3 linked regions of the Homo sapiens genome follow. The protein of the gene in region 1 interacts with the protein of each later gene in a pairwise test. Each region holds a gene or a part of one and is shown on either strand. Other genes may lie near its edges.

What was found. Proteins that work in one complex are often made in the same cells at the same time.
Region 2: the proteins of CRCP (region 1) and ZMIZ2 interact in binary tests that used the Homo sapiens proteins (3 or more experiments, as listed by UniProt).
Region 3: the proteins of CRCP (region 1) and LRIF1 interact in binary tests that used the Homo sapiens proteins (3 or more experiments, as listed by UniProt).

The regions. Positions count from the first base shown.
Region 1 is NC_000007.14:66,131,841-66,138,865, forward strand, and holds part of CRCP (DNA-directed RNA polymerase III subunit RPC9), read left to right. Parts: intron 1-2,439; coding exon 2,440-2,534; intron 2,535-7,025. UniProt on the Homo sapiens protein: DNA-dependent RNA polymerase catalyzes the transcription of DNA into RNA using the four ribonucleoside triphosphates as substrates.
Region 2 is NC_000007.14:44,751,822-44,758,846, forward strand, and holds part of ZMIZ2 (zinc finger MIZ domain-containing protein 2), read left to right. Parts: intron 1-4,366; 5' UTR 4,367-4,428; coding exon 4,429-4,478; intron 4,479-4,603; coding exon 4,604-4,718; intron 4,719-5,125; coding exon 5,126-5,328; intron 5,329-5,556; coding exon 5,557-5,740; intron 5,741-6,026; coding exon 6,027-6,287; intron 6,288-7,025. UniProt on the Homo sapiens protein: Increases ligand-dependent transcriptional activity of AR and other nuclear hormone receptors.
Region 3 is NC_000001.11:110,946,923-110,953,947, reverse strand, and holds the end of LRIF1 (ligand-dependent nuclear receptor-interacting factor 1), read left to right. Parts: intron 1-1,132; coding exon 1,133-2,660; intron 2,661-3,824; coding exon 3,825-4,097; intron 4,098-5,548; coding exon 5,549-5,989; 3' UTR 5,990-6,758; downstream 6,759-7,025. UniProt on the Homo sapiens protein: Together with SMCHD1, involved in chromosome X inactivation in females by promoting the compaction of heterochromatin.

The DNA of each region.
Region 1 (7,025 bases):
CACCTCTGGCTCCCGGGTTCAAGCGATTCTCCTGCCTCAGCCTCCCGAGTAGCTGGGATTACAGGCATGCACCACCTTGCCCGGCTAATTTTGTATTTTTAGTAGAGACAGGGTTTCTCCATGTTGGTCAGGCGGGTATCAAACTCCCGACCTCATGTGATCCGCCCACCTCTGGCTCCCAAAGTGCTGGGATTACAGGCGTGAGCCACCGTGCCCAGCCATTTTTCTCTTACATAAAAGTTGTAGAGACAGTGCTGGGAGTTCTCATGTACCCTTCCCATAGTTTTCTCTGATGTTAATATCTTACATAACCATGGTACAGTGATCAAAACCAAGAAATTAACATTGGTACATACTATTAAGCTAAACTTAAATTTTATTTGAATGCCCTGTTTTCCCATTGCTGTCTTCTGGGTTCCAGGATTCAGTTCAGGATACCATTTTGTATTTAGTTAACATGTCCCCATAATGTCATTCAATCTATATCCTTACTCTTCCTTTGTCTTCCATGACCTTGACACTTCCAAAGTCTCGTCAAGTATTTTGTAGAATGTCTGTTGATTTGTGATTGCCTGATGTTTTATTATGATTACACAAAACCTATGGCTTTTGAGGAAGAGTACCACAGAGGTAATCTCCCCTTCTCGTGTCCTGATTTCTGGGGGTACATGATATTGATGTTTCTTATGGGTGATGTTGTTAACTTTGGTCATTTCGTTAAGATGGTATCTGCCTGGTTTCTCCACTGTAAATCTACTGTTTCTTCATTTCCACATTATGTTAGAAAGGATTTGGCTGGGCGTGGTGGCTCACACTTGTAATCCCAGCACTTTGGGAGGCCGAGGCAGGCGGATCACAAGGTCAGGAGATCGAGACCACGGTGAAACCCCATCTCTACTAAAAAGAAAAAATACAAAAAATTAGCCGGGCGTAGTGGCGGGCGCCTGTAGTCCCAGCTACTCAGAGAGGCTGAGGCAGGAGAATGGCGTGAACCTGGGAGGTGGAGCTTGCAGTGAGCCGAGATTGCGCCACTGCACTCCAGCCTGGGCGACAGAGCAAGACTCTGTCTCAAATAAATAAATAAATAAATAAATAAGATGAAAGGACTTACCAAGTTTAGCCCATATTCAAGGGGAAGCGGGGCGGGGGGATTAAGCTTCACCTCTTGAAGGGAGGGATATCGAAGAATTTGTGGTTGTATGTTAAAACCACCACAGTAATTAAAAAATATTTTGTGGGAGATGCTTTGCGGCTAGGAAAACAGCCTACCCTTTGCTTAAGCTTTTAACCATCAATTTTAGCATTTATTGGTGGGTCTTTCCTGCAGTAGTTATGACTATGGTACAATTGCCTAAGAGTGATTTAAAAATTTTTCTCATTCTTGGCCGGGTGCGGTGTCTCATGCCTATAATCCCAGCACTTTCGGAGGCCGAGGCGGGTGGATCACGAGGTCAGGAGATCGAGACCATCCTGGCTAACACGGTGAAACCTCGTCTCTACTAAAAATACAAAAAGAAATTAGCCGGGCGTGGTGGCAGGCGCCTGTAGTCCCAGCTACTTGGGAGGCTGAAGCAGGAGAATGGTGTGAACCCAGGAGGCGGAGCTTGCAGTGAGCCGAGATCGTGCCGCTGCACTCCAGCCTGCAGTGAGCCGAGATCGTGCCGCTGCACTCCAGCCTGGGTGACAGTGAGACTCCGTCTCAAAAAAAAAAAAAAAAAGAAAAAGTTGTCTCTTCTTACCCGTTTATCTATTCAGTCGTATATATCCATGTAGACTCATGGCAATTTATTTTATTCTTTGGGTTCCCCCTCTTTAAAAAAATTGTTCAAAATATAACACAATTGTCAGATTGAGGGTTTTTTTTTTTTGAGATCAGAAAAGTTTTCTCCTAAAATTTCATTAGTTATTCTTCCTCTTCTAGCTACTGGTTTTCTCTTTCAGAAATTCCAATTACACGAAGATTGGTTCTCCTGAATGCCTTTTTGTTTTATACAGGATTTTTTTTCTTTTTTGTTTTCTTTTTTTTTTTTTTTTTTGAGACAGAGTCTCACTCTGTCACCCAGGCTGGAGTGCCATGGTGTGATCTCGGCTCACTGCAACCTCTGCCTCCCAGGTTCAAGTGTTTCTCCTGCCTCAGCCTCCCTAGTAGCTGGGATTACAGGCGTGCACCTCCACACCCAGCTAATTTTTTGTATTTTTGGTAGAGATGGGGTTTCACCATGGTGGCCAGGCTGGTCTCGAACTCCTGACCTCAGGTGATTTGGCCACCTCGGCCTCCCAAAGTGCTGGGATTACAGGTGTGAGCCACCGTGCCCAGCCTCTACAGGATTTTTACAAACAAAATTTTAGAATTTTAATTACAGTCATTGCCTTTGTTTTTTCTCATTCAGGGTTCTTTGTCTTATGCTTGGCTTTTTTCTTTTTTTTTTTTTTTGCCAGACGTTAAAATACATATCAAAAACACCATGCAGGCACCAGAGTCCTGAAATTGTCAGAGAATTTCTCACAGCATTGAAAAGCCACAAGTTGACCAAGTAAGTAAATCTCTTAAGTAGGAAGAGCGTGACACATGGTGAAATGATAGTTGCTACATTCGTAGCAACCGTGTATTGATATTCGGCTGGGTTTGGATTTAAAGAAGGATTATAGTATTGGAGATGAAACAACTGAAAGTTAGACATAGGGACTAGAGTAAGGAACAAATCTTTTTTTTTTTTTTTTTATAAATGAAGAAAGTTCATTTATCCTAGTGATACTGTATTACTCTGCCTGCTTATTCTGCAAAATTAGCAGAGATTAATTTACATTCTCAAAAAAGACGGGTGAGGGGAAATGGAAATGCTTCATGGAAAAGAAGGCAAATTTAGGTCATAGGTAGAGATCTCAATCAAATGGGCCAAAATACAGTTTATTTATATCTGCTAACTCCCAACTGCTAGCATCTGACCACAGCATAACAAGCTTGGAATCGGGGAACCTGGGCTGTAGTCCAGTTTCTGCCCCTTATAGCACCATGACCTTGGAAAAGGTATTTGACCTCTCTGAGTTTCATTATCCTTACCACTGAATAAGGATCATCTGCTAAACTCACAAGGCTGGGGAAAGGGTGAAGGGTGGTGTCTTCATGGAAACAATATGTGTAGATGTCCTTTTTGGACTCCAGAAGCCATAAATGATGCAACCTTATTTATTAACCATTAATGTGAACAGGGCCAACCATTTCTATGTTATTAACACTGCTTCTTCCCTAATGATTCAATTCAGATAAACCTTACAAAGCACTTCACACCAAGAGCTGAGTATCAGGGCCACTTGGTTCTTACAGACGCAGTGCCTCCAAGCCAAAATTGGTAGAACCAATAGTTCTACTCTTAAAGCAGGACCTCTCTAGCCTCCCATTATCTAGATGAAAATGAGCTTACTAATTTAGAAACACAAGTGAGTATATTCTAGGCTAACCAAAGTAATTCTTCTCTAATTATTGAGAACATTAAATGTCACGAGCTGATCTCAAAATATTAGTAAAATAAGTTAAATTGTTTTGAAAGGAAGGAAATGTGATAATGTAGAAATGGGGAAAAAACAAGACAGAATTGAAATATTATATTAATCAAGTACTAACCCTGGTTTGAATGGGTAAATGCAGAAGACCTTTCTTCCTTCTTTTTTTATTTATTTATCTTTTTTTTCAAAATTATACTTTAAGTTCTAGGGTACATGTGCACAACGTGCAAGTTTGTTACATATGTATACATGTGCCATGAGGAACAAATCTTAATGGGGTTTAAAAATCTTTTCTTGGCCAGGTGTGGCGGCTCATGCCTGTAATCCCAGCACTTTGGGAGGCTGAGGTGGGTGGATCACCTGAGGTTGGGAGTTCTAACCAGCCTGACCAACATGGAGAAACCCCATCTCTACTAAAAATACAAAATTAGCTGGGCGTGCTGGCACATGCCTGTAATCCCAACTACTAGGGAGGCTGAGGCAGGAGAATCGCTTGAACCTGGGAGACGGAGGTTGCGGTGAGCCAAGATCGCGCCCTTGCGCTCCAGCCTGGACAACAAGAGCAAAACTCTGTCTCAAAAAAAAAAAAAAATCTTTTCTTGGAGTCCCAGTTTGTATGACATATCGCATCAACCCCACTCCCAGAATTCAGACCAAATTGGATGAAAAGTAGGGTTGACAAGTTAAAGTACTTTTTATAAAGTTGATCAGTGAAGTCTTTTGACATTTGTGTTTGCTTGAGGCAAAAGTGGCTTGATCATCTTCTGTGAGTTCTTGTAGTTTCCAGTTCCTTTTCTTGGTCTGGAATGAGTTCAACCTTTTAAAATTGAAAACGTCATACATCAAGAGTTTACATGAGAAGAAAACTAGCCCGTTTTTTTTTTATTGGTTTGTTTTTTTTTGAGATGGAGTTTCACTCTTGTGAGTTCATGCTGGAGTGCAATGGTGCAATCTCGGCTCACCGCAACCTCTGCCTTCGGGTTCAAGTGATTCCTCCTGCCTCAGCCTCCACAGTAGCTGGGATTACAGGCATCTGCCACCACACCTGGCTAGTTTTGTATTTTTAGTAGAGACGTGGTTTCTCCATGTTGATCAGGCTGGTCTCGAACTCCCAACCTCAGGTGATCCATCCACCTCGACCTCTCAAAGTTCTGGGATTACAGGTGTGAGTCACCGTGCCTGGCCAATTTTGTATTTTTAGTAGAGATGGGGTTTCACTCTATTGGCCAGGCTGGTCTTGAACTCCTGACCTCAGGTGATCCTCCTGCTTTGGCTGCCCAAAGTGCTAGCATTTCAGGTGTGAGCCACCGTGCCTGGCCTATGTATACATTTTTGAATTGACTTGTTGATATCTGGAACAAATCCTGCTGAGATTCTGATTGGGATTGCCTTACATCTATAGGTCAGTTTTGGGGGAGAATTGACATCTTGACAATATTAATAATTCAAGATCGGACGGGCACGGTGGCTCACACCTATAATCCCAGCACTTTGGGAGGCTGAGGCAGGTGGATCACGAGGTCAGGAGTTCAAGACCATCCTGGCCAACATGGTGAAACCCCGTCTCTACTAAAAATACAAAAAATTAGCCGGGTGTGGTGACGGGGGCGCCTGTAGTCCCAGCTACTCGGGAGGCTGAGGCAGGAGAATCACTTGAACCTGGGAGATGGAGGTTGCAGTGAGCCGAGATTGCGCCACTGCACTCCAGCCTGGCGACAGAGCGAGACTGTCTCAAAAAAAAATTTAATAATAATAATAATTTAAGATCAGTCAAAGGTTAAAAAAAAACAACCCGCCAATACTGAACCTTCTAGTCCATGAAAACAGTGTAGCATACAGGTTCTGCACAAATTTTTTTAGATTTATACCTATTTCATAATTTTGCGTGCTATTGTAAATGGTGCTCATTTCTAGTTGTTGATTGCTGATATAGAAGTACAGCTGACTTTATATTGATCTTATGCCCTCCAGCCTTGATAAATCCACTTATTAGTTCTAGGAACTTTTTTAGTGTATTCTTTAGGATTTTCTGTGCAGAAAGTCGTGGTATTTGCAAACAGAGTTTTACTTCTTTCTCATCTGTATGGCTTTTCCTTCTTTTTCTTATTTCATTGCCCTGGCTGGGGCCTCCAGGATGATGTTGAGTAGGAGTGGTGAGAGCAGACATCCTCATCTTGTCCCTGATATTAAGGGAAAACAGTCAGTCCTTCACCATTAAGTATGATGCTAGTTTAGGTTTTCCATGAATGTCTTTTACCAGGTTTAGGAAGTTCAGATTGCTGAGATTGGATGTTGAATGTTGTCACTTGCTTTTTCTATATCTATAAAGCTAAAAAGATTTGTAGCCTTTTGGCTGTATCTTTTTGTTTATTTTTGTTTTTAGTAGTTACTGAAGGGATCCCTACTAGGTTACTAGTAGGGTTAATAATATGCATGCCTGACCATTTATAGTCCAGAGTTAATATTTTACCAGTTGGTGTATATAAGTCTCTTTACCTTCTTTTTGTGTTATGGTTGTATTTATAACATATAATCTACATACATTGAAACATATAATCTGCATACTATTAGTAGTGTTTTTACATTGACTTTCTGTATTCTTACATATTTTAAAGAACTTAAGAGAACAAAAATAGTCTTTTTGTCATCATTTCTTTTCCTCTCTATTCCTGAAGTGCCCTGCGTCCTTTTTATCATTTACTTCACCAGGAAGAACTGCCTTTGGCACTTTTCTGAGAACAGGTCTCTTGGCTACAAATTCTCTTATTTTCATTTAGCTGAGAATGTCATTATTTCCTTTCATTCCTGAAGGATAATTTCACTGGGTTGATTGATCTTTTCCTTCAGAACTTTTAAGATGTCATTTCAGTGACTTCTGGCTGTCACAGTTTTTGATTAGAAATCTGTGATCAGGCTGGATGCAGTGGCTCATGCCTATTATCTCAGCACTTTGGGAGGCTGAGGCGGGAAGATCACTTGAGGCCAGGAGTTTGAGACCAGCTTGGGCATCATTGTGAGACTCCATCTCTATATTTTGAAAAATAATTAATTAAAAAAAAATTTTAATCCGCTATCACTCTAACCCTAATGTGTCATTTTCCTCTGGCTGCTGTTAAGATTTTTTTTATCCCCCTCTACTCCTACTGCTTCACTTCACTAGCCTGGGCGCGGTGGCTCACGCCTGTAATCCCAGCACTTTGGGAGGCCGAGGCTGGCAGATCACGAGGTCAGGAGATCGAGACCATCCTGGCTAACACGGTGAAACCTCGTCTCTACTAAAAAAAAAAAAAAAAAAAAAAATCAGCTGGGCATGGTGGCGGGCGCCTGTAGTCCCAGCTACTCGGGAGGCTGAGATAGGAGAATGGCGTGAACCCGGGAGGCAGAGCTTGCAGTGAGCCAAGATGCGCCACTGCACTCCGGCCTGGGGGACAGAGCGAGACTCCGTCTCAAAAAAAAAAAAAAATTTAAATAAATTTCAAAAAAGATTTTCAAGTCTTTGGTCTTCAATAATTTGATAATGA
Region 2 (7,025 bases), about 21 Mb from region 1:
CTATGGTGGTGTACACCTGTAGTCCAGTTACTCAGGAGGCTGAGGCAGGAGAATCGCTTGAACCTGGGAGGTGGAGGTTGCAGTGAGCCTAGATCGTGCCACTGCACTCCAGCCTCGGTGAAAGAGCAAGATTCCATCTCAAAAAGAAAAAAAAAAAATTAAAGATTCATGTGCATTATAAGAAATGACACAGAGAGATTTATTCTGTCCTTTACCCAGTTTGCCCCAATGGTAACATCTTGGAAAACTAGTACAACATTGCACCAGGACACTACACTGATACAGTAAAGAGGTTACAGCCTGTTGCCTTCTATTTTTTTTTTTTGAGATGGAGTTTCACTCTTGCTGCCCAGGCTGGAGTGCAATGGTGCGATCGGCTCACTGCAACCTCCACCTCCTGGGTTCAAATGATTCTCCTGCCTCAGCCTCCTGAGTAGCTGGGATTACAGGCGCCCACCACTACGCCCGGTTAGTTTTTGCCCAGCTAATTCTTATGTTTTTAGTAGAGTTGGGGTTTCACCATGTTGGCCAGGCTGGTCTCGAACTCCTGACCTCAAATGATCTGCCCACTTCAGCCTCCCAAAGTGCTGGGATTACAGGCGTGAGCCACCGTGCCCAGCCTGTTGCCTTCTTATATTCACGCCCACCTTCCTCCTGCCAAAATTACAGAAATGGAGAAGAGATTAGTACCTTTCTCTTTACCCCCACATTTAACCCCTGGCAATCACCAATCTGTTCTCCATTTCCCTAATTTTGGTGTGTCAAGAATGCTAAATAAAGGAATCGTACACCGTGTAGCCTCTTGGGATTGGCTTTTTCCACCGAGCATTAATTCTCTGGAGATTCATCCAGGTTGTTGCATATATCAGTAGTTCATTCCTTTATATTGCATCCGGGCTATGGATGTACCACCGTTGATTTAACTCTTCATCCATTGAAGGACATCTGGGCTGTTTCCATTCCATAGCTCTTGCAAATAAAGCAGTTATAAACATTTGTGTACAGGTTTTTATGTGAACATAAGTTTTCATTTCTCTGAGATAAATGCGTACAAGTGCAGTTGCTGGGTCATAGTAGGGTAGCTGCTTGCTTAGTTCCATATGATACGGCCAGACTGTTTCCCAGAGTGGCTGTACATTTTACATTCCCACTAGTAATGTGTGAGAGATCCAGTTTCTCCTTGCCAGCATTTAGTGATGTCACTATTTTTTATTTTAGCCATTCTGATGGATGTATAGTGATATCTCACTGTGGTTTTAATTTGCATTTCCCCACTGACTAGTGATGCTGAGCATCTTTTCTTATGCTTATTTGCCATCTGTATATTCTCTTTGGCAAAGTGTCTCTTTATGTTTTTTGCTTATTTTCTAATTGGAGTTTTTAATTTTAATTTTTTTTTTTTTTAGTTTTGAGAATTCTTTTTTTGTTTTGTTTTGTTTTTTAAATCATGGTTCACTCTGTCATCCAGGCTAGAGTACAGTGGCATGATCATGTCTCACCCCAGCCTCCACCTTCTGGGGTCAAGTGATCCCTCCACTGCAGCCTCCTGAAAAGCTGGGACCACAGGTGCATGCCACCACGCCCAGCTAATTTTTAAATTTCTTGAGGAGTCGGGGGTCTCACTCTGTTGCCCAGACTGATCTTGAACTCCTGGGCTCAAGCAGTCCTCCTGCCTCGGCCTCCCAAAGTGCTGGGATTATAAGTGTGAGCCACTGTGCCTGGCTGAGAATTCTTTATATGTTCTAGATACTAGTCCTTTGTTGGATATGCAGCTTGCAAATATTTCTCCTGGCCTGTAACTTATCTTTTCATCCTCTTAGCAGGGCCTTTCCCGAAGGAAAAATTTTAATTTTGATGAAGTCCAGTTTATCAGTTTTTTTCTTTTATGGATCATGCCTTTGGTATCAGGTCTAAGAGCTCTTTGGCCTAGATCACAAAGATTTTCTCCTATATATTTTCCTGAATATTTTATAGATTTATGTTTTACAGTTAAATCTATAAACCATTTTGAGTTACTTTCTGTATAAGGTGTGAAGTTTAGGTGTTTTTTGTTTGTTGTTTTGATGCCCAGTTGCTCCATTGTCCCAGCACCATTGGTTGGAAAGGCTGTCCTTCCTCCTTTGAATTGCTCTCGCACCTTTGTCAGACATTGTTTGGGCCTATTTGTGCAAATCAATTTCAGATTCTCTGGTCTCGCCTGTTGGCCCATGGTTCTGTTCCCATGTTGGTACCACACAGTTTTGATTACCATATCTATATTCTAAGTCCTAAAATCTGTGTATGGCTGCTCAAGGCCCCACCCAGCAGTTCTGGGGAGGAGTTTCTGGCTGTTGGCAGGTTCCTCTGTCCCCCAACATCACTATTCCTGAGTCAGGCTATGGGACTGGGATTGCCACCCCTACCTTGCCTGGCTGGGCCATCTCAGCTCCCAGGCCTGTTCTTGCCTAGAGTCCAGGTGCCTGGAGCCTTCTGGAGCCATCAGCCCCTGGTTTTCTTCACCCCTGCTTCCTGGGCAGGACTTGGTCTGGGGGAGCAAGGGGAGGAGCCTATGGGCTGGGAATCAAGTCTTGCCTCCCCTGAGGGTGTGAGGAAGTCCAGAACACTGCCCTCTCCCTCTTCCCTAATTGGTACCCCCCAGTCCCAGTGCTCGGTGATGGGAAGATCCAGTGAAAGGCCACATGCTTAGACTCCCCAGGCAGAGCTCAGCTCTACTTCTCACCTGCTCTGGGGCCCTGGGCACACAGCTCGCCCTCAGAATCTCCAGGTCTATATTTTGAGGGGTGAGGCTGTTCCTACCTCCATTGGTGAGGCCCTCGGTCAGCACAAGAAATGGCAGCCTAGATGAATGCGGGGCCACCCTCTCCTGGGGCAGGGAGAGGCCATGTGAGTGCTGCGATGGCAGGATGGCACCAGTGGTCAGCACGCCTCAGGTGGCATGTCTGTGTGTGTGGCAGCCTTGTAGGCCCTAAAAGGGAGTAGTATCCAAGGCGAGCATGCCTGGGGACTCCTGAGAAACAGCTGAAGCGGCCTCTCCTGTGCTGCAGCCAGTGTTCCTCTGTGGATAGCCTAGGCAGGCAGAGGTGGACATGTCAGGTGGTCCTGGGAGTGTCAGAACCCAGGGTAGTGCCAGTGAGGGCCCTTCAGGGACACTCAGGGGCAGGGCTCCAGGGCATGTCTGGGCCTGCTTTGGTAAGGGGCTTGCTTGTGGCAGTGTCGGAAGGCGTGGCACTCAGAAGCAGCCTGAAGGTGTGGTCACTTCCGTGGCTTATTTACTAAATGGGGAGAGCAAACTTAGCGTGGCACATGTAAGTCCCATGGTGCCAGCACTGTGGTCCTGCATGCGTCCTCCCTGACACACCCCCTCTGCTGCCCTGTCCTGAGCACCAGGTCACTGGTATCCACTCAGCCCCATCTTGCAGAGTCACTTCAATGTCTCCCCAGCCCCTTTCTTAGAAACACTGGCCAAGTCACAGTCCCTGCCAGGTCTGTGGGTGCCCACCCTCCATCTATTGTGCTGTGTGTCCCTGCCCTCTCCTGGGGGTGTCATGGATGGGCCAGTGGGTCTGCCTGCCTGGCCCCTAGGACCATATCAGCCTCGGGCAGCCCCCACTTGGTGGAATCTGGGTCAGTTCTGAGGTGCCCTGGCCTGGAGCCCTTCTACTACCCTAAAGAGGGCCTTCTTGTTGGGAGGGGCTGCTAGCCAGAGCCCAGGTTACTGGCCCCACACCCCATTTCAGGAGGTATCCTGCATGTCCCTCCCCAAGGCCAGGATGGAGAGTTGTTGGTTGACCACTGCACTCCTGTGATCACCGCACCCCTGCACTCTCCTCCTCGGCTTTCTCAGCCCCTGGCCTCCAGAACCGCCTATGCCCCTACCTGGGCTACTCAGGGTAGACAAGACCTTTAGCAGGGAGTCCCCTCACCTCCACTGCCCTCTGTCCTTCACCCCAGGGCCTTCTGTGGGGTTACTGGCTACTGGCTCCTCTCTAAACCCCAGTTTCCACGGGGTAGCTAGGATTGTCCCTGGCTTTATAAGGATAGCCAGGCCTCGGTGTGGGCGGGAGAGTGGGGAAAGTATTTGGAATCGGGAAGTCCATCTCTAGGGCTGATCCAGGGACTCTGGGTGGCAGGGCCTGGTCAGAAAGGGTTCATGCTGGCCTCCAGGCTGTATTTGTGGGGGCAGATCCTCACCAGAGTGAGTGGGGTGGGTCAGTACTAGGCCCCTCCACTGCCTTGCCTGCCATCAGAGCCCAGGGGTCCCTTATTGAGAAAGAGGTGGGGCCTGCTGGCACCGGGGTCCCTCCACCCTGCTGAAAGGGTCTCCTGGCTGCATCGCAGCTAACATCCCTTCCTTCCTGTCGGGCAGCCAGAGCAGCTGAGTTCCAGATAAAAACTGTCAGACCCGGCCTGTAGGCTGCTCCATTGCCAATGAACTCCATGAACCCCATGAAACCTGCCCTGCCCCCTGCGCCACACGGGTGAGTGTGGGCTCCTCTGCCCACCCCTCAGGCCCTGGGGTTGGGGGTGGCATTTCTGGAAGATCCTAGACTCTTGGACACCAGTGGCTTCCTGACCCAGGCCTCAGCAGCCTCTTTCCCTGCAGTGATGGTTCATTCGCATATGAGTCTGTGCCTTGGCAACAAAGCGCCACTCAGCCGGCTGGATCGCTGTCTGTGGTCACTACTGTGTGGGGAGTTGGCAACGCGACACAGAGCCAGGTAAGCACCCACTGGTGCCCCACCCCCGAGCAGACAGAGCCTCCCAGCACTTGGCAGTGCTTAGTGCCTCCTCAGAGCTCTGAGAGACGAAGAGGCTGAGAGGTGAGGACAGAGAGGCTGAGGCATGACATATGAGGATGGGGCCTCCTGAGTCCCCTAAGTCTTTGGACACTGGTTCTCTTTCCACACCTGCTGTGGGATTTTCTTCTCCTGTCTTCACCTAGCCTTCACAAAATGCCCCAACCTCCCTGTGGACAGCTGCTTTCCCTGCTTCCCGTGCTATACCCTGTCCCCCCCACCTCTCCCCCAACCCACTTGCCAGGCCTGTTGGTTTCTAGCACTTTGGAGCTGCTGCATGAAGCACGTTGTTTGGCTGGTTCCCTTTGGTGATTCCTGCTTCCTCATAGGTTTTGGGGAACCCCATGGGCCCTGCAGGGAGTCCCTCTGGCAGCTCCATGATGCCTGGTGTGGCAGGGGGCAGCTCCGCCTTGACCTCCCCACAGTGCCTGGGACAGCAGGCGTTTGCTGAAGGCGGCGCCAACAAGGGCTACGTGCAGCAAGGCGTGTACAGCCGCGGGGGCTACCCTGGGGCCCCCGGCTTCACCACCGGGTAAGCAAGTTCCCTCACCTGGCAGGTATGCTAGGAGCCATCAATCTGGCAGGCACCTCAGAACTGTGGCGCTGATCAGCTGGACGTTCCCTCTCTGCTTCCTGACAGCTGTAGTGGAGGGTCTAGAAAGAATGGGCTCCCCCTGGGTGCTGCATGCCTCTGGGGTGAGCACAGTCCTGGCCCTCATGAGCCCACGCAGAGAGCGTGGCAATCCTGTGTCTCCTGCAGGTATGCAGGCGGCCCGGGGGGCCTGGGCCTCCCCTCACATGCTGCAAGACCCTCCACTGACTTCACGCAAGCGGCAGCTGCTGCAGCTGTGGCTGCTGCGGCAGCCACTGCCACCGCCACAGCCACAGCCACCGTGGCTGCTCTCCAGGAGAAGCAGAGCCAGGAGCTGAGCCAGTATGGAGCGGTGAGCCCCCTCAGCAGCTCCTCCCACATGGCAGCCAGCCTGAGGGCCTGGGAGGAGGTACTCAGCCAGACAGTGGGCTCCAGGGACAAGCATGGAATATGCCAGGGCTCATGAAGCCAGTAAAAGAGAGATGTGTGGGAAGGAGTGAGGGTCTGAGGGGAGAGGTTTCTGGGGTGTCCTGTGAAAGGGTATGGTGCCCACATGGGTGGGTGGGCGGGTTTTATGCCTATCTTTTGGAGCCCTTTGTGGGTGGGACCTGGACCATTCTTCTTTTTTCTCTTCCTAGATGGGGGCCGGACAGTCTTTTAACAGCCAGTTTCTGCAGCATGGAGGTCCCCGGGGGCCTAGTGTCCCCGCTGGCATGAACCCTACTGGCATAGGAGGGGTAATGGGCCCCTCTGGCCTCTCCCCCTTGGCTATGAACCCCACCCGGGCAGCAGGAATGACACCCTTGTATGCAGGGCAGCGTCTGCCCCAACATGGGTATCCTGGGCCTCCCCAGGCCCAGCCACTGCCCCGACAGGGGGTCAAGAGAACCTACTCTGAGGTGAGTGTCCAGGTCACCTAGTTTGGGGCCTTGGGTACCAACTCCCTCACCCAGGCACTCTTTAGAGCTGTGGTAAAGAGCAGGCTTCTGGCTGGGCATGGTGGCTCACGCCTGTAGTCCCTGCACTTTGGGAAACCAAGGAGGGTGGATCCCTTGAGCTCAGGAGTTTGAGACCAGCCTGGGCAACATGGCGAAACCGTGTCTCTACAAAAATTAGCCTGGTGTGGTGGCATGTGGCTGTAGTCATAGCTACTTGGGAGGCAGAGGTGGGAGGATCGCCTGAACCCAGAAAGTTGAGGGTGCAGTTAGCTGTGATCGCTCCCCTGCACTTCAGGCTGGGCAACAGGAGTGAGACCCTGTTTCAAAAAAAAAAAAAAAAAGCAAAAGCCGGGCATGCTGTCTCATGCCTGTAATCCCAACACTTTGGGAGGCTGAGGCAGGTGGATCACTTGAGATCAGGAGTTCAAGACCAGCCTGGCCAATGTGGTGAAACCGCATGTCTACTAATAATAGAAAAAATTAGGCCGGGCGCGGTGGCTCACGCCTGTAATCTCAGCACTTTGGGAGGCCAAGGCGGGTGGATCACGAGGTCAGGAGTTGAAGACCAGCCTGGCCAGCATGGTGAAACCCCATCTCTAATAAAAATACAAAAAGCATTAGCCGGGTGTGGTGGCGGGCGCCTGCAGTCCCAGCTACTTGGGAGGCTGAGGCAGGAGAATTGCTTGAACCCAGCAGGCA
Region 3 (7,025 bases), on another chromosome or scaffold:
AATATATGATGACAATCTATGATATATACCATGAAGGAAGCTAACAAGCATAATGTTATGGATTAATTATGAAGGAAAGACAAGGATAAAGTGGTCAGAAAATGTATCTCTTGAGAAATATCATTTATGCCAAGACTTGAGCTATGTGAAGAGTTGAGTTGGGTGAGGCGTACCTAGGTAGAGTGATAGTATGTGTGACATGAAAGCTCAATATTTCCCAGGAGCTGAAAAATGTTTTAGATATAAATAAGGTAAGGTATTTACATTCAAGTAATCTCCAAATAACTAATTATGCAAACAGAGATTAGTATATATTGATTTTTCTTAAGATTAGACAGTCTATACTAAGAAATAATTCAAGGCATGGGGGTCAGAATTGATTCAGTTAAAAAAAATTGATTTCCAGTCTGTTCCACATTGATTGAAAACCATTCAGCTGAAATTGCAGTGGTATTATATGTATGGGTTGATAGGTGATTGACAATTGACTAATATAAATAATTGCTATACCAGAGACTATGTAGCACTAAACCTCAAATGTGCTGAAACAGTAATCAGAAGAAAATGATTCCTATGTAAACAGTTCAGTGAAATCTATAGCACAAAAATGTGGCAAACTAAGGTAACACCATGAGAGATAGCTTAGGCAAAAGAAGAATGGCTGGCAGAACTTGTGAGTTATTGAAGGAAGAAGACAGAACAGATTGAGGGGGAAAAGAGAGAAATGGAATAAGAGTAAGGGGAGAGGGAATGAGAATCTTCAGTTAGAGTAGAGGAGGAGGACAAGAGGAAGGAATTCAGGGAAAGGGGGAAGGGAGGATGCTAATATTTTAAGAGGAGCTTACTTTAGTAGTATAATTTTATATAGGGCAAAACCTTAGAAATGTCTACTTTTAGTCTTAGGAATAAATGTTATTATCTCATACCCATTGCCTAATCATATAAGCAGTTGACTATATCATTATCTCTTCTACTTCAAAATATTTGTTTTGCAGTCTTTCACTTTAAAAACTCAAAATGGAAAATTATATACTTTATTTTAATATTTACAAATATTTACAAATATTTATTTTTAAATAAAATGTATATACCATGTAGTATGTTGTATTTATTTACTCAATGTTCTTTTAAGTGTTTCAGGCTGCATGTACCAAGTAGTTCAGACGATTGGCTCGGATGGAAAAAATCTTCTGCAATTACTTCCAATTCCTAAGTCTTCTGGAAATCTTATACCACTAGTTCAATCTTCAGTCATGTCTGATGCTTTGAAAGGGAATACAGGAAAACCAGTTCAAGTTACTTTTCAGACTCAGATTTCCAGCTCTTCCACAAGTGCATCAGTTCAATTGCCCATTTTTCAGCCAGCCAGTTCTTCAAACTATTTTCTTACAAGAACAGTAGATACATCAGAAAAAGGTAGAGTTACTTCTGTGGGAACTGGAAATTTTTCTTCATCAGTTTCTAAAGTTCAGAGTCATGGTGTGAAAATTGATGGACTCACCATGCAAACATTTGCTGTTCCTCCCTCAACACAAAAAGACTCATCTTTTATTGTAGTTAATACCCAGAGTCTTCCAGTGACTGTGAAGTCTCCAGTTTTGCCTTCTGGGCATCATTTACAGATTCCAGCCCATGCTGAAGTGAAATCTGTACCAGCGTCATCATTGCCTCCTTCAGTGCAGCAAAAGATACTTGCAACTGCCACCACCAGTACCTCAGGAATGGTTGAGGCCTCCCAAATGCCAACCGTTATTTATGTATCTCCTGTAAATACAGTGAAAAATGTAGTTACCAAGAACTTTCAAAACATTTACCCAAAACCTGTTACAGAAATAGCAAAGCCAGTAATACTAAATACCACACAAATTCCAAAGAATGTTGCTACAGAGACACAATTGAAAGGTGGTCAGCATTCTCAAGCTGCTCCAGTGAAATGGATTTTCCAAGATAATCTACAGCCTTTTACGCCATCTCTTGTTCCTGTTAAGTCTTCAAATAATGTGGCTTCAAAGATTTTAAAAACTTTTGTAGATAGGAAAAATTTGGGAGATAATACTATAAATATGCCACCATTGAGTACCATCGATCCTAGTGGGACGCGATCCAAAAATATGCCTATTAAAGATAATGCTTTGGTTATGTTTAATGGGAAAGTCTATCTGTTGGCTAAAAAGGGGACAGATGTTCTGCCATCACAAATTGACCAACAGAATTCTGTTTCTCCTGATACTCCAGTAAGAAAAGACACGTTACAGACAGTGAGTTCAAGTCCAGTCACAGAAATATCCAGAGAGGTTGTAAATATTGTTTTGGCTAAAAGTAAATCTTCCCAGATGGAGACAAAATCACTTTCCAATACCCAGCTTGCTTCCATGGCCAATCTAAGGGCAGAGAAGAATAAAGTGGAGAAACCATCTCCTTCTACCACAAATCCACATATGAACCAATCCAGTAACTACTTAAAACAGAGTAAGACTTTATTCACAAATCCAATCTTTCCAGTTGGATTTAGTACAGGACACAATGCCCCCAGAAAAGTAACAGCCGTCATTTATGCTAGAAAAGGAAGTGTCCTCCAGAGCATAGAGAAAATAAGTTCCTCTGTTGATGCAACAACTGTTACTTCACAACAGTGTGTTTTCAGAGACCAAGAACCAAAGGTAATTTTCCCATGTCAGGGTGCTCTTTTTATATATCTATATAGAAAAGTTTGTTTTCTTAATTCTCAAAGTTATCTATGATACCTCTTTCCCCCACTGCCAACCCCATCACACACAGACTATACACATATGAGTATTTAAGTCAAAACTTCCATCTGAGCAAATTTGAGGAGGAGTACAGTTGGGTACAATCTTGTACAAAGGAGTACAGTCTTTCTCTTGAATCACTTGGCATGCCAAATCTTTAAAACAAAAAATTCACAGAGCAAAAAGGTTTAGAAGAGTTGGGGAAGGATAATGTGAATTCAAAGCTTAGTAAAAATATGTGAGTATATGTATATACATACATGTATATATGTATGTTCATATATAATAGCCTTTTTAGTATATGAGGAGATCAATATGCATGTAAAAGAGTTGGTTTTGGGGTTTTGTGGGGTTTTTTTGTGGTGGTGGTGGTGGTATACCATGGAAAAGGTGAGACAGGGCTAATCAATACCTTTCAGTAATTTGTGGAAATAAGATTTTATCAGCATCTTTGATGGGTTGATTTTTTTTTTGGTAGACAAATTTCATTTTCCTTTTTATTAGCTCTTTGTGACTCCTCAGCCAGTTACCCAACATGCCCACATAGTTACCTTTATGTTCGACTTAAGGTTTGTCTGTCTGTGTGCTTACTAGATATTTGTACCCATCTTTTCCTTGCTTACTTAGAGGTCTACTCAATAATGTCAGCATTTCTCCCCTTCAGTACAGAATTCATTGAACTCCAGAGATGTAAGGAGGTAAATTCTGATTGTTCAATACAAGATCGATTAAAGGCATGTGTGACTTTTCCAGAAGACTACAATTTCTAAATAATGTCATATATGTTATTTTAACGTTGTCATTAGTCTGTATTCTCATTTTAGTTGTTTTAGAATTGACTACTTATTACCTTTCTAGTGCAACAAATTAATTGAGAAATTGTAGGGGGGAATATTTTAAGTTTGTACTTCCTTATATTCAGTTTTTTGAGTGTGGGTGGTAAGGCAAGGATAATACAAACCAATCATAAAGCATGATATGTTCTTTTATGTAAGATGAAATAATCACTTAGTTGCTTAATAAAGTAACTTGAATAATTAGCAGTATTGTTTGTGTGTTTTCTTTTCCTAATTCCAGATCCATAATGAGATGGCATCAACATCAGATAAAGGTGCCCAAGGAAGAAATGACAAGAAAGATTCTCAAGGAAGAAGTAATAAGGCATTACATCTGAAGAGTGATGCTGAATTTAAAAAGATATTTGGCCTTACTAAGGATTTGAGAGTGTGCCTTACTCGAATTCCTGACCATTTGACCTCTGGAGAAGGTTTCGATTCCTTTAGCAGTTTGGTAAAGAGTGGTACTTACAAAGAGACAGAGTTTATGGTGAAGGAAGGAGAGAGAAAACAGGTAGGTAATACATTTTAATGTGCTCTTCATAGGTACTACAAATGATACATGAATATTACTTTTCTTGATTTGGTTTTAACCCTTGTGCATTAGTATAAATGATGGTTGTTACTGGTTTTGCAAATACATAATACCAAAATGATATTTAAAACAACCAGGCCCCAGCACTTTGGAAGGCTGAGGCGGGTGGATCACCTGAGGTCAGGAATACAAGACCAGCCTGACCAACATGATGAAACCCCGTCTCTACTAAAAATACAAAAATTAGCTGGGCCTGGTGGTGGTTGCCTGTAATCCCAGCTACTCAGGAGGCTGAGGCAGGAGAATCACTTGAACCCGGGAGGCGGAGTTTGTAGTGAACCGAGATCGCACCATTGCACTCCAGCCCAGGCGACAGGGCAGGACTCCATCTCAAAAAAAAAAAAAAGAACCAGGCCAGGTGCAGTGGCTCACGCCTGTAATCCCAGCACTTTGGGAGGCTGAGGCGGGCGGATCACGAGGTCAAGAGATCGAGACCATCTTGGCCAACATGGTGAAACCCCGTCTCTACTAAAAATACAAAAAATTAGCTGGGTGAGGTAGCACGCACCTGTAGTCCCAACTACTTGGGAAGCTGAGGGCAGGAGAATCGCTTGAACCCGGAAGGCAGAGGTTGCAGTGAGCTGAGATCGCACCACTGCACTCCAGTCTGGCAACAGAACGAAACTCTGTCTCAAAAAAAAAATTATATATATATAAACACCGCCCACCCCACACACACACACGCACAGGTAAAAATGCATCCCAGTTAAAGATATGTTTTAATTTTTTTTATTCACCTACTACATTTTTTTCCCATTATGTTACAAGAAAATGGCCATAGCTTTTTAACTAGTCATCCTACTTTGAGGACTCTATCTAAAGGAAATAATTCAAATGTAGTAGAAGATATAAGCATGCATATGTTCTTAATAATAACCTTTTAAGCAACTTATATAGCTAATAATGATAAAAAGAAATGTCTATAACTTTGCCTACTGTTATACTTTGACTTATGAGTATGTCATTATCATGTAATATTCTGAACTTTAGATCAGAGACTAGTAAACCTTTTCGAATGAAAATCCTCCATATGTGCCTGCTGTGCAAAGGAAAAGAAAAAAACAATCAATTTTATATCTCAGGCACTTTACAAGTGCTATTATATTTCTGTGGTGAGTCAGTATGCCTTCTAATACTTGACTTGAGCAAGAAAATGTGAATTAGGCAATTTCTTCTTACTGAATATGATTAAGACATTTTGGTACCATACAGTGGGAAATATTTCCCTCTTGCTGTAGTTGTCTTCCATAAATTTTGTTAATTGTAATAGCTAGATATTTGTTTCTGCAGACGTTGTTAAGTTTGGTAGTACCCGGTGCATTTAGCAGTAACATTTCGTTTTTGTTTTGGAATGTTATTCAATATTGCAGCAGAATTTTGATAAGAAAAGAAAAGCAAAAACTAATAAGAAGATGGATCACATAAAGAAGAGAAAAACAGAGAATGCTTATAACGCAATCATAAATGGGGAAGCTAATGTCACCGGTTCCCAACTCCTAAGCAGTATTTTACCAACTTCAGATGTGTCACAACATAACATTCTCACGAGTCACAGCAAAACCAGACAAGAAAAGAGAACTGAGATGGAATACTATACCCATGAGAAGCAAGAGAAAGGCACTTTGAATTCAAATGCAGCTTATGAACAAAGTCATTTCTTCAATAAAAATTATACCGAAGATATTTTCCCAGTGACACCACCGGAGTTAGAAGAAACCATTCGAGATGAAAAAATAAGAAGACTTAAGCAGGTGCTGAGAGAGAAAGAAGCAGCTCTTGAAGAAATGCGTAAGAAGATGCACCAAAAATAAAATCTCCTGTAAAGACTTCAGTGAAATAGCTGTTTTTTAAAATATACTTCAGCATTAATAAGTTAATTGTAGGTGTGTTCTGAAAGTGTCTTTGAATATGAAGCTTGTTTTTTCATCAGTCGATTGTACAACTTTAAGGAATACAGAAAAGGTTGATTCACATATGACTTGTGAATAATTTACATGGGGTATCTATACCTTTGTCTTAGATACCTTTTTTTGGAAGGATAAATTTTATATTTTTCTATTATTTTAACTAGAATTCTCCAAGTTTGAATATTTGGGCAGGGTTTTTGTTATTGTTTGTATCTTTACCTAAATTGCTCAGGCATTATTCCAGCAGTAGATAGTGACTGTGTATTACTGAAATTTTACAATTCAAGAGAGGAAATCAGCTCCAAACTTAGCTTTTCCAGTGGATTTGTATATGTACTTGCTTTATCTCTTTACCCTTAAAATGATGATACCTTGTATTCACCATTGTTTTTTTTAATGTCGTGAAATAATATGTATTATGGCAACATTATTTAAACATTCAAACATTTCTCAAGAATGAGCAACATTTGTAACTTTACAATGTAATTTTATATAATCCAAAGGTATTTTAGAATTCAGGCCATTTGATGTTTTGTTTGCTTATAGTGATGTGTTCCCAGGCAAATGCTGCTTTTTTTTTTTTTGGGACTATGTACATACGTTACTGAGATTGTGTAAAAAGTAGATCCTGAACAGTTATCACATTTAATATTTCTTAAACTGTAAAAGTGTATTTTCTCTGTCTGGTTAATCTTTGATTTGGGAAAGTTTGGGAATGGTGTAGGGATAGGGATTAAGAGATGGGGAGTTAGCTGAGCGTGGTGGTGTGTTTGTAGTCCCAGCTACTCAGGAGTCTGAGTGGGGAGGACTGCTTGAGCCCAGGAGTTTGAGGCCAGCCTGGGCAGCACAGTGAGACCCTGTCTCTTAAAGGAGGAGGAGGAGAACAATGTTATTAAAAAATGATCAGGCCGGGTGCAGTGGCTCACATCTGTAATCCCAG